Homo sapiens: one gene and its partner. The protein of the gene in region 1 interacts with the protein of each later gene in a pairwise test. Each region holds a gene or a part of one and is shown on either strand. Other genes may lie near its edges.

Region 1 (5,718 bases):
CGAGCTCCAGCATCCCTTGTCAAGGTAAGAAGTGCCAGTTCTCCCAGTGCAGCCAGTTCTCCCCTCTGGTTGGCCCACAGCCCCCTCTCTTCACTCTCTGTCCTAGTCTAGTCACCTCCCATCCCATGAACTGAAACACATTCTTAGAATTTTGCAATTAGAAAATCACTGATGATGTTGGTGCGTGCTAGGTGTCATTGCAAGCTGGAAGTGTCAACTAGGGGTATACACTTTGAGGAGGGCGTGTCAACTAGGGGTATACACTTTGAGGAAGGCTAGTTGGAGAAAAAAGCAGGAAAGTAGCTAGAGAGGGATGAGTTTTAGGAAGGATGTGGTTTGGTTTGGTTTGCTTTGCTTTGCTTTGCTTTAAATAGGAGAGACTTGAGATTTCCTAGGGAAAAGAAGCTGGTAAGGTGTGAGAAGCTAAAGACACTAAAGAGATGGGATAATGAAGAGACAAATCAGCAGGGGTCAAGGGTACACATGGGAGATTCAGCTCTGGGCAGGAAAGACAGTCCCTTATCTGAAGATGATTCAACCAACAATGACAACACTGATGGCTAGGGCTGGATGGCCACATTGAACACAGCCACGTGGTCCCTGCAGTCATGGAGCTTTTAGTGTAGGAAAGAGGAGATGGATGGCAATGGGCACACTGAGTAGGTGGTGCTGGATTCAGAGGCGTTTCTCTTTGTCCCTGCTGCTGCATTTATGACTGTGTCCTGCGTGAGGACATACTCTTGCCCATCAGGCTACCAGCAACTTTCTGGGGCAGGAGCCTATCCTCTCCTATTCCAGCTCTCTTGGGTAGGTGTGCCAGCACCCACAGGGGCCCAGGATGGGGTAGCTCCTCTTTCGGCTGTCCTTCCCTAACCTACTAAGATTCTACTGGGCCTTCCATGGACCTGTCCTGATTCTCTCACCCCAGAACACAAGAAATACTCACTGTCTACACTGTCTGCTGTTGCGGCTGGGGATCAACCCTGATTTAGATTTGGGTCTTCCTGATGCCTCTACCATTTACTGGCTGTATTACCTTGAACAAGTTCTTTAACCTCCATGAGTCCTAGTTTCTCAGTCTGTGAAATGCGATTGATAACACTGATGAACCTTGCTTAGTTCATGGAGTTGTGGAAAGATTCCAGTGAGGTAGATGTGGAAGCCCAGAAGTGTGTGAAAGGGTGTACATGGCAGGGGATTAAGGTAGGCTTTTGATGATCTCCCTGGCTTAATTTGCAGTTCCTCGGAGGGTACCTCATGTAGCATGGGGCATAGTCACTGGCACTCAGTATAAACCTGTGAAGACTGACCTCTCCCATCCTAAAACACTGTCTCCACCTGGAATTAACTGTTGCCCACCTGAAATTAACTGTTGCCCTCCCTATGCTCCGGTGGCTATTGCAGTACAGGCTTGCTCTGTGAAGGGCTTTCACTGTGAAGAGTGTTTAACTGGATGGGCCCCAGGTGGCCCCAGCAGCCTGCCTTCCCTGCTAGTGAGGCCATGGGCTGGTGCATGCCAGCTCTGTCCACTTGAAGGGGGAAGGGTCCATCGTAGGGAGCCAGTGCAGCTGGCAGGGTTCAGGCCTGTGGGCACCGCTGGGGACAAAGCCACTCTGAATGCCTCTCAATGAGTGCTTGTGTTCTGGGAATGGGGGCGGGGTGACATCCAGCCTCTTTCCCTCTCCGCCCCCGACAGGATGTCCCAGGCTGGACGCGGCAGAGGAGGTCCCCCACAAGTGAAGGTCCAGCCCTGCTCCTCCAGGGTTGGCCCATGTGTCTGGGCATTCGGAGGTGGCACCAGGATCAGGGCTTCTGGAGTCCAGCATAGTGATTGGGCCCAGGCCGGGGGCGGGTCCAGGACACAGCCAGGCTTCCCTGGCCGCAGTGCCCAACTGCCCGCAGTGCCCATGGTGGCTCGGATGGGAGGAACCACCGCGGAGCCGGGGACAGGGGGAGCAGGGCAGTGCTCTGCTGGGTGAGGGGCACCCAGCTCCAGAGGCTAGGTGGGCGTCGCTGGTGGGTGGACTCCTGGGCGCTGCGCGGAGCCGCGCCGGCTGGGTTAGCGCGGGCGGGGCGCTTAGTCCCACCCCCAGAGGAGGCGGAAGAGGAGCCCGAGCCTGGCCGCGGGCTGGGCCCCGCCGCAGCTCCAGCTGGCCGGCTTGGTCCTGCGGTCCCTTCTCTGGGAGGCCCGACCCCGGCCGCGCCCAGCCCCCACCATGCCACCCGCGGGGCTCCGCCGGGCCGCGCCGCTCACCGCAATCGCTCTGTTGGTGCTGGGGGCTCCCCTGGGTAAGGGGATGGGGAGAGATGCGGCAGGAGTGGGATGGGGGCGGAGGAAGGGGAGGGACCGATCCGAGGGGCTTGGGCTCGGGGCTTCTCCGAGACCCTCCGGCTGCCACGGGAGCCTTGGGTGTTGCTGGGTCCTCAAGAAGCGGGAAGAGGGAGCTCCAGGATGCTGGGCCATGGGAGGCTGATCCCGGGGTGCAGGGTCAGCTTCAGGCAGAGGCCTCGGGGGCTCTGGGGCTGAGACCCTCAGGGTGGAGACAAGGGGCAACCCTCAGTGTTCGGGAGCCGTCAGGCTGGGGACCGCCGGGGGAGTGGGGCCGAGCGCGGCTGGGGATGAACTGGCCTGGTGGCCACTGGGCACCCCCAATCCCTGCCCGCAGTGCTGGCCGGCGAGGACTGCCTGTGGTACCTGGACCGGAATGGCTCCTGGCATCCGGGGTTTAACTGCGAGTTCTTCACCTTCTGCTGCGGGACCTGCTACCATCGGTACTGCTGCAGGGACCTGACCTTGCTTATCACCGAGAGGCAGCAGAAGCACTGCCTGGCCTTCAGGTGGGTTCCTGCCTCCTCACCCTCACCACCTCCTCTATCCTTTTCTCCAGAGGCCTCCTCTTCCTCCCTCCCGGACTCCTGCCTCCTCCGTTGTCGACCTCCACATTCTTAGCTGAATAGAGTCACCAGGACTCAAGCCTGGCGGCAGAGCTAGGTGCTTAGGTGCTGGTGCCTGGGAGTTCCAGAAAAGGCATGTTAGTTACCTTCATAGGCTTTGACTGGGCCCGGGGTTTCCAGGTTCTTTCTGGAGCCCTCCCTTTGGTCCTGCCAGGTCATGGGGAGGGAGGGTTCAAGGTTAACACCCGGACGACAGTGTAGCTTTGTGGAAGAAGCTCTGGCACAAAGGCAGGAGACTTGGGTTTGATTCCCAGGTCCACTTCTTACTAGCTGTGTGATCTTGGAGAAGACACTTGCCTTCTATGGGTCATTGCTTGCCAAATTAGTGGTTGTCAAACTTTTTTTTAATATATCATATATAAAATAGATATAGAGACTTCTGATTGAAGCGGGGTTTGGAAAAAATGGCTCTAGATTATTTCTAAGGCTCCTTTCAGTGTTATGCTGTATGTCTAATCATTTAAGTTGTAGATATAAAAGCAATGGTTGGGGGCGCACTGCAAATCCCCGTATGCTTCACACTAGCCAGCCAGGCAGCATAGCCTTCTGGGAAGTGGAGGTCCTCTAAGATCTCCTTCACAGGGACTGGGCAGAGCCCCACAAGGAACCCCAAATCTCAGCATGCCATGGCCCCCCTGCTGGCCAGGAGTTGGAGCCAGCATAATGAGGACTCCGTCCTATGAGTGTTGGAAGGTGAGAGGACCTGTTCTTTGTCTAAAGCCCCAAGACCATAGCAGGCATCGCCTCAGCTGTGATCCTCTTTGTTGCTGTGGTTGCCACCACCATCTGCTGCTTCCTCTGTTCCTGTTGCTACCTGTACCGCCGGCGCCAGCAGCTCCAGAGCCCATTTGAAGGTACACCCAGTACTGGGCAAGAAGGGCCTCAGATGGGCTGGGCTAAGTCCAATAATGGGCAGCAGAGAGTTCATGGATTGGGTAAATTCTGTAGTAGTATGTGCTTCTGTATACACACACCTGCCAGCATGAAAACCCAGAAAAATGCTTGTAAACCCGTGAATATTAGAATGTGCCTGGGATATATGGAACATCAGACTTTGTGTGCATTTCTGTGCATACACATGAAGATTCAAATGTGTACAGGAGTGCAGTCTGTCAACAATAGTGGGTGCAGTGGGTGTATGCATACATATGACTCTTAGTAAGTACACGGGGTCAGGTCTGTAGTGATGAACATTAATTGAGTGTGCTCCAGTGGATGGCAAAATATGTGCCTGAGTGTTGGCATGTGATGCACATATGCCACAACCTGATGGACATGGGGACAGTGATGCCATACGGGAGATCAGTGTGGGAGGGAAGGGCTAGGAGAAGACCCTCTTAGTGGCAGCTCTGCTGGATTACAGGATACCAGCCCTGAGCTGTCCCCTTCTTGCCCAAGTGAGATATTCCCTGGGCTGTGCTCCCTGGTTCATGAGGTCTCTGAAACCTGCTGAGGGGAGCAAACTTGCTCAACACAGATTGACCAGCTGGGGCCACGTGCACAGCTCCCTGCTTAACTCTGCCAAGCAGGGTGTGGGAGGCAAAGATGGCCAGCCTGGAGCTTGCCAGAGGCCAGCACCAGGGTGCTTACCTTGGTTTCCTGGGCAGGAGGAGGAGGCTTCCCATAGGAGATGGGTCTCTGAATGCTGATCCTTCTCCCCCATCTAGGCCAGGAGATTCCAATGACAGGCATCCCAGTGCAGCCAGTATACCCATACCCCCAGGACCCCAAAGCTGGCCCTGCACCCCCACAGCCTGGCTTCATATACCCACCTAGTGGTCCTGCTCCCCAATATCCACTCTACCCAGCTGGGCCCCCAGTCTACAACCCTGCAGGTAAGTAAGCAATCTGGAGCCCCTTGCTGCTGCCTTCCCCCACCCCTTGCCCTGCGACCTCCCCTGTGCCTCTCTCATTCTCAGATTCCCTCTCCCAGACTTCCTCCACCTCTAGCCCGAAACCTCCAGGCCCACTCTTCCCTATGGGTCCTGTCTGCCCCGGGGGCAGGGGTGTTACTTTTCGTCCACCTATGCCACCACTCACCCTCATCCTGTCTCTTTGGCTTTCAGCTCCTCCTCCCTATATGCCACCACAGCCCTCTTACCCGGGAGCCTGAGGAACCAGCCATGTCTCTGCTGCCCCTTCAGTGATGCCAACCTTGGGAGATGCCCTCATCCTGTACCTGCATCTGGTCCTGGGGGTGGCAGGAGTCCTCCAGCCACCAGGCCCCAGACCAAGCCAAGCCCTGGGCCCTACTGGGGACAGAGCCCCAGGGAAGTGGAACAGGAGCTGAACTAGAACTATGAGGGGTTGGGGGGAGGGCTTGGAATTATGGGCTATTTTTACTGGGGGCAAGGGAGGGAGATGACAGCCTGGGTCACAGTGCCTGTTTTCAAATAGTCCCTCTGCTCCCAAGATCCCAGCCAGGAAGGCTGGGGCCCTACTGTTTGTCCCCTCTGGGCTGGGGTGGGGGGAGGGAGGAGGTTCCGTCAGCAGCTGGCAGTAGCCCTCCTCTCTGGCTGCCCCACTGGCCACATCTCTGGCCTGCTAGATTAAAGCTGTAAAGACATAACTCATATCAGTCGCATCATTGGACCCATCCACACCTTCCAGGAACACCGCCTTCAGCTGGGCCCAGACTGTTGCCCACTCCATATTCCAAAAGTAGGGGAGGGCCAGCACCAGCATCGGAGCACAGCACCATCCTCACCCCCATCCACAAGCAGACCAAGGCGGACTGTTCCTGGCTTCCTAAAGGCTTCCTAA
Region 2 (4,305 bases), on another chromosome or scaffold:
AGGGAAATTATCCCTGAGGACTCAGTATAATCATAAAAGACCTTCTAAGAAGGAGGCAAGAGGGCCAGAGTCAGAGAAGGAGACGGTGATGGAGGCAGAGGCTGGACTGCTGTGGTGCCACGGATGGAGGAATGAGGGCTGCCTCTAACAGCTGGAGCAGGCAAGGAGGCGAGCTCTTCCTAGCACTTCCCGAAGGAATGCGGGGCTGCTGTATTTTAGCCCAGCGAGATCTGTTTGATTTTAGCCCGGTGAAACCTGTTTTGGCCTTCTGGCCACCAGAAATATAAGAAAATTAATGTGTGTTGTTTTAAGCCACTAAGTTTGCGGTCATTTGTTACAGCAGCAACAGGAAACTAATACACTGTCCAGATCCAATTCATCTGCTGCTATGCAGATGGTACACTGAGGACCCTTAATCCATGCGTGGATATGGTGGAGGGACAAGAGCGTTTATAGCTGAAAGCACATGCTCAACTTTGGCTGCCATTAGAATCGCCTGGGACTTAGGGTTGTTGGGGGAGAGGCTTAAAAAACTGCTAATGCCTAGGCTGCATCCCAAACCAAGTCGATCAGAATCTTTGGCATTGGGACCTAGGCAACAGTATTTCTGAATGTGTTCCAGGTTATTTCAATGTGCAGCCAAGCTTGAGAACCTACAAGCCTAAAGAATAATCAGCCAGGGATCTAGAGCCACAGATACAGGCTACATTAAAATCAAGATTAAGTCTTTAATATTATTATTAATATTTAATATGATCACTAATGATATCTCTCCCCTAAGCTCTCAAATTCTGCATTTCACAGCTTGACCTTGCACACCCCCATTCCTGCCCCCACTTCCCACCCTGGATTCCTCAAAGCTACTGCCATTCCAAAGTTAGTGCTGCTGCTGCTGTTCATAGCATCACGTTTGGAGGTGAACAGAACCTTAGAAATGGGTTTTGGCCACTCACCTCTTTTTATAGATGAGGCCAAAAGAGCGGAAGTAACATTTAACCAAGTGCATATGGGTGCAGTGCACCATCTGGACCAAATCCAACCTCCCAATCTCATTCTGGAACTCTTTCCACTATGCTAGAATTTTCTGTAAAATCCTTATGGCACCTCACAATATCATGAATGACCTCCTTTCACGATGAGGATGGAGATAAAGACATTTCTCTTCTTTGGATAGCTTTTCACATTCCGACTAGAATGAAGCCTGGCTGGAAACTTCTAAGAGCTAGATACAACTTTTAAAATGGCTGAGTCTAGCTTTTAGCAAAATGTATGTTCCTGAAAAGTTGTCAGTCAAATTATATAAAATAATTTGCACACACCAGTACCATTATCCCTATGAAAGGTGAATGATCACCTTGTAATGAAAATAGCCATCCCCTGGGCTCCTTGGAGAAGTGGCTGATTCTAGGATGGGGGCAGGAAAGGCACGAGATGAGCCTAGAGCATCTTGTAGTGCCCCAAAGAAAGGAAATGCTCACGAAGAAACAAAAATGAATTCCCCACATCAGTATCCTCATCAATGTGAGCATCCCAAAGGGACACAGAAGCCAACTGAAAGAGCTCCCAATGGCCAAGGCTAGAACAATTTGAGCACCGAAATAAAGAAATATTGAATTATTACCCAAAATAAAAAATACACATCTGTGGGCCCATGCTGATATAAATAAGTGACTTAATGAATAGCAGAGAAAAGACAAATCTCCTACATAGAAGAATTTCAAATAATTCATGTAGGTACTCCATCCTCAAAGAGGTAGAGCTTAACTCCTTACTCCTTCAGTGCAGACTGTGCATAGTGACTTTCTTCCAAAGAGCACAGTGTGGAACATGGGGAGAAAGGCTAACTCTACAGCGGAGGAACCTGATAAACACTACTTCATCCAGGCGATCGAGGCCAACATCAACAATGATCATGTTGCTGAATCACTTGTATGATATGATATGATGTGATGTGATGAAAATGGCACTTGACTTCTCTGGTCTTCCTCCCAAAAGCCATAACCCCAGTATTACAATGATGAGTAAAACAGCAGGCAAGTTCCAATAAAGGGACATTCTACAAAATACCTGACCAGCACTTCCCAAAACTGTCAAGGTCATTAAAAACAAGGTAAGTCTAGGAAACTGTCACAGCCAAGAGGAACCTAAGGAGACATGACAACTAAATGTAATGTAGGGCAGGACATGGTGGGCCACGCCTGGAATCCCAGAACTTTGGGAGGTCGAGCGGGGAGGATGGTTTGAGCTCAGGAGTTTGAGACCAGCCTAGGCAACGTAGACCTCATCTCTACAAAAAATAAAAATAAAAATAAAAATAATCTGAGTATGGTGGTGCATGCCTGTAGTCCCAGCTACTTGGGAGGCTAAGGTGGGAGGAGGATCGCTTGACCCCAGGAGGTTGAGGCTGCAGTGAGCCATGATTGTGCCACTGCACTCCAGCCTGGGTGACACAGCAAGACCCTGTCTCAAAAAAAAGAAAGAAAAAAGTAATGTAGTATCTTGAATAGGATTCTGGAACAGAAGGATATTAAATAAAAATGAAAAAAAAAACCAATAAAGTGTAGACCATAATGATAATACTATTAATTACAACAAATGTATCATACTAATGTGTTAATAACAGGGAAAACAGAGTATGGGGTATATAGGAACTCTCAATACTATCTTAAAATGTTTTTAATTGATATATGTAAATTGTATGTATTTATGGGATACATATGATATTTTGATACATGTGTACAATGTTTAATGATCAAATCAGGGTATTTAGAACATCCACCACCTTGAACATTTATCATTTGTGTTAGAAGCCTTTTAAATTTATTTTGAAAAATACAATATATTGTTGTTAACTATAGTCACCCTACTGTGCTGTTGAACACTAGAACTTATTCCTTCTATGTGACCATATGTTTGTACCTATGAACCAGCCTCTTTTCATCCTCCTGCCCCTGGATCCCAGCCTCTGGTAACTCATTCTATTCTCTACCTCTATGAGTTTCACTTTTTTAGCCCTCAAATATGAGTGAGAACATGCAATATTTGTCTTTCTGTGCTCAGCTTATTCACTTAACATAATGACCTCCAATTCTGTCTATGTCACGAATGACAGGATTTCATGCTTTTTTATGGCTGAATAATATCCCATTATGTATATGAACCATATTTTCTGTATCCATTCATTTGTAGATGGACACTTAAGGTTATTCCATTTCTTGGCTATTGTGAATAGTGCTGCAGTAACATGGGAGTGCAGATGTCTCTTCAATATATTCATTTCTTTTTCTTTGGATAAACACTCAGTAGTGGGATTGCTGGATTGTCTAGTAGTTCTATTTTTTGTTTTTTGAGAAACGTCCATCTCTGTACTATCTTCTCAATTTTTCTGTAAAATTGTTCTTGAAAAATAGTCTATTACCTCCTCCCACCCCAATTTGTTAGTTTATACTTTTTATTTTATTTTTTGAGACAGAGTTTCGCTCTTGTTGCCCAGGCTGCAGTGCAATGGCGCGATCTCGGCTTACTGCAACCTCCACCTTCCAGGTTCAAGCGATTCTCCTGCCTCAGCCTCCCAAGTAGCTGGGATTACAGGCATGAGCCACCACACCCGGCTAATTTTGTATTTTTAGTAGAGACAGGGTTTCATCATGTTGGCCAGGCTGGTTTCAAACTCCTGACCTCAGGTGATTCACCCGTCTCAGCCTCCCAAAGTGCTGGGATTACAGGCGTGAGCCATCACACCTGGCCTATACATTTTTTAACATCAGATTTTCATAAACTAGGGTTCACTTGCATACAGTTTTACAAACTGTAATCTGGGTGATTTCCCATCAATCACACCAAAACTTAAGGCAGTGGATCTTTTTTTCTTCCCCCCACCAACAGACAAGGTCTCACTCTTGTGTTGCCCAGGCTGGAGGGCAGTGGTACAATCATAGCTCATTGCAGCCTCAACCTCTTGGGCTCAAGAGATTCTCCTGCCTCAGCCTCCTGAGTACAGGCACATGCCATGACACTCACCTGATTTTTAAATTTTTGGTATAGATGTGATCTTGCTAGGTTGCCCAGGCTGGTCTTAAACTCCTGGCATATGGTGATCCTACCTCATTGGTCTCCCAAAGTGCTGGGATTACAGGCATGAGCCACCATGCTTGGCTAAGATAGTGGATCTTAAAATTGTTCAAGTGACAGAGCACTGGGAAGTCACAGTGCTCTGTTGGTGTACATTATAGATTTTGTCATATTCTTCTTCTTTTTTTTTCTTTGAGGCAGTGTCTTGCTTTGTCACCCAGGATGGAGTACAGT

The links. Proteins that work in one complex are often made in the same cells at the same time.
Region 2: the proteins of SHISA4 (region 1) and TSPAN33 interact in binary tests that used the Homo sapiens proteins (3 or more experiments, as listed by UniProt).

Annotation. Positions count from the first base shown.
Region 1 is NC_000001.11:201,886,779-201,892,496, forward strand, and holds the start of SHISA4 (protein shisa-4 precursor), read left to right. Parts: upstream 1-2,119; 5' UTR 2,120-2,216; coding exon 2,217-2,289; intron 2,290-2,666; coding exon 2,667-2,838; intron 2,839-3,675; coding exon 3,676-3,809; intron 3,810-4,622; coding exon 4,623-4,790; intron 4,791-5,021; coding exon 5,022-5,068; 3' UTR 5,069-5,718.
Region 2 is NC_000007.14:129,153,902-129,158,206, reverse strand, and holds part of TSPAN33 (tetraspanin-33), read right to left. Parts: intron 1-4,305. UniProt on the Homo sapiens protein: Part of TspanC8 subgroup, composed of 6 members that interact with the transmembrane metalloprotease ADAM10.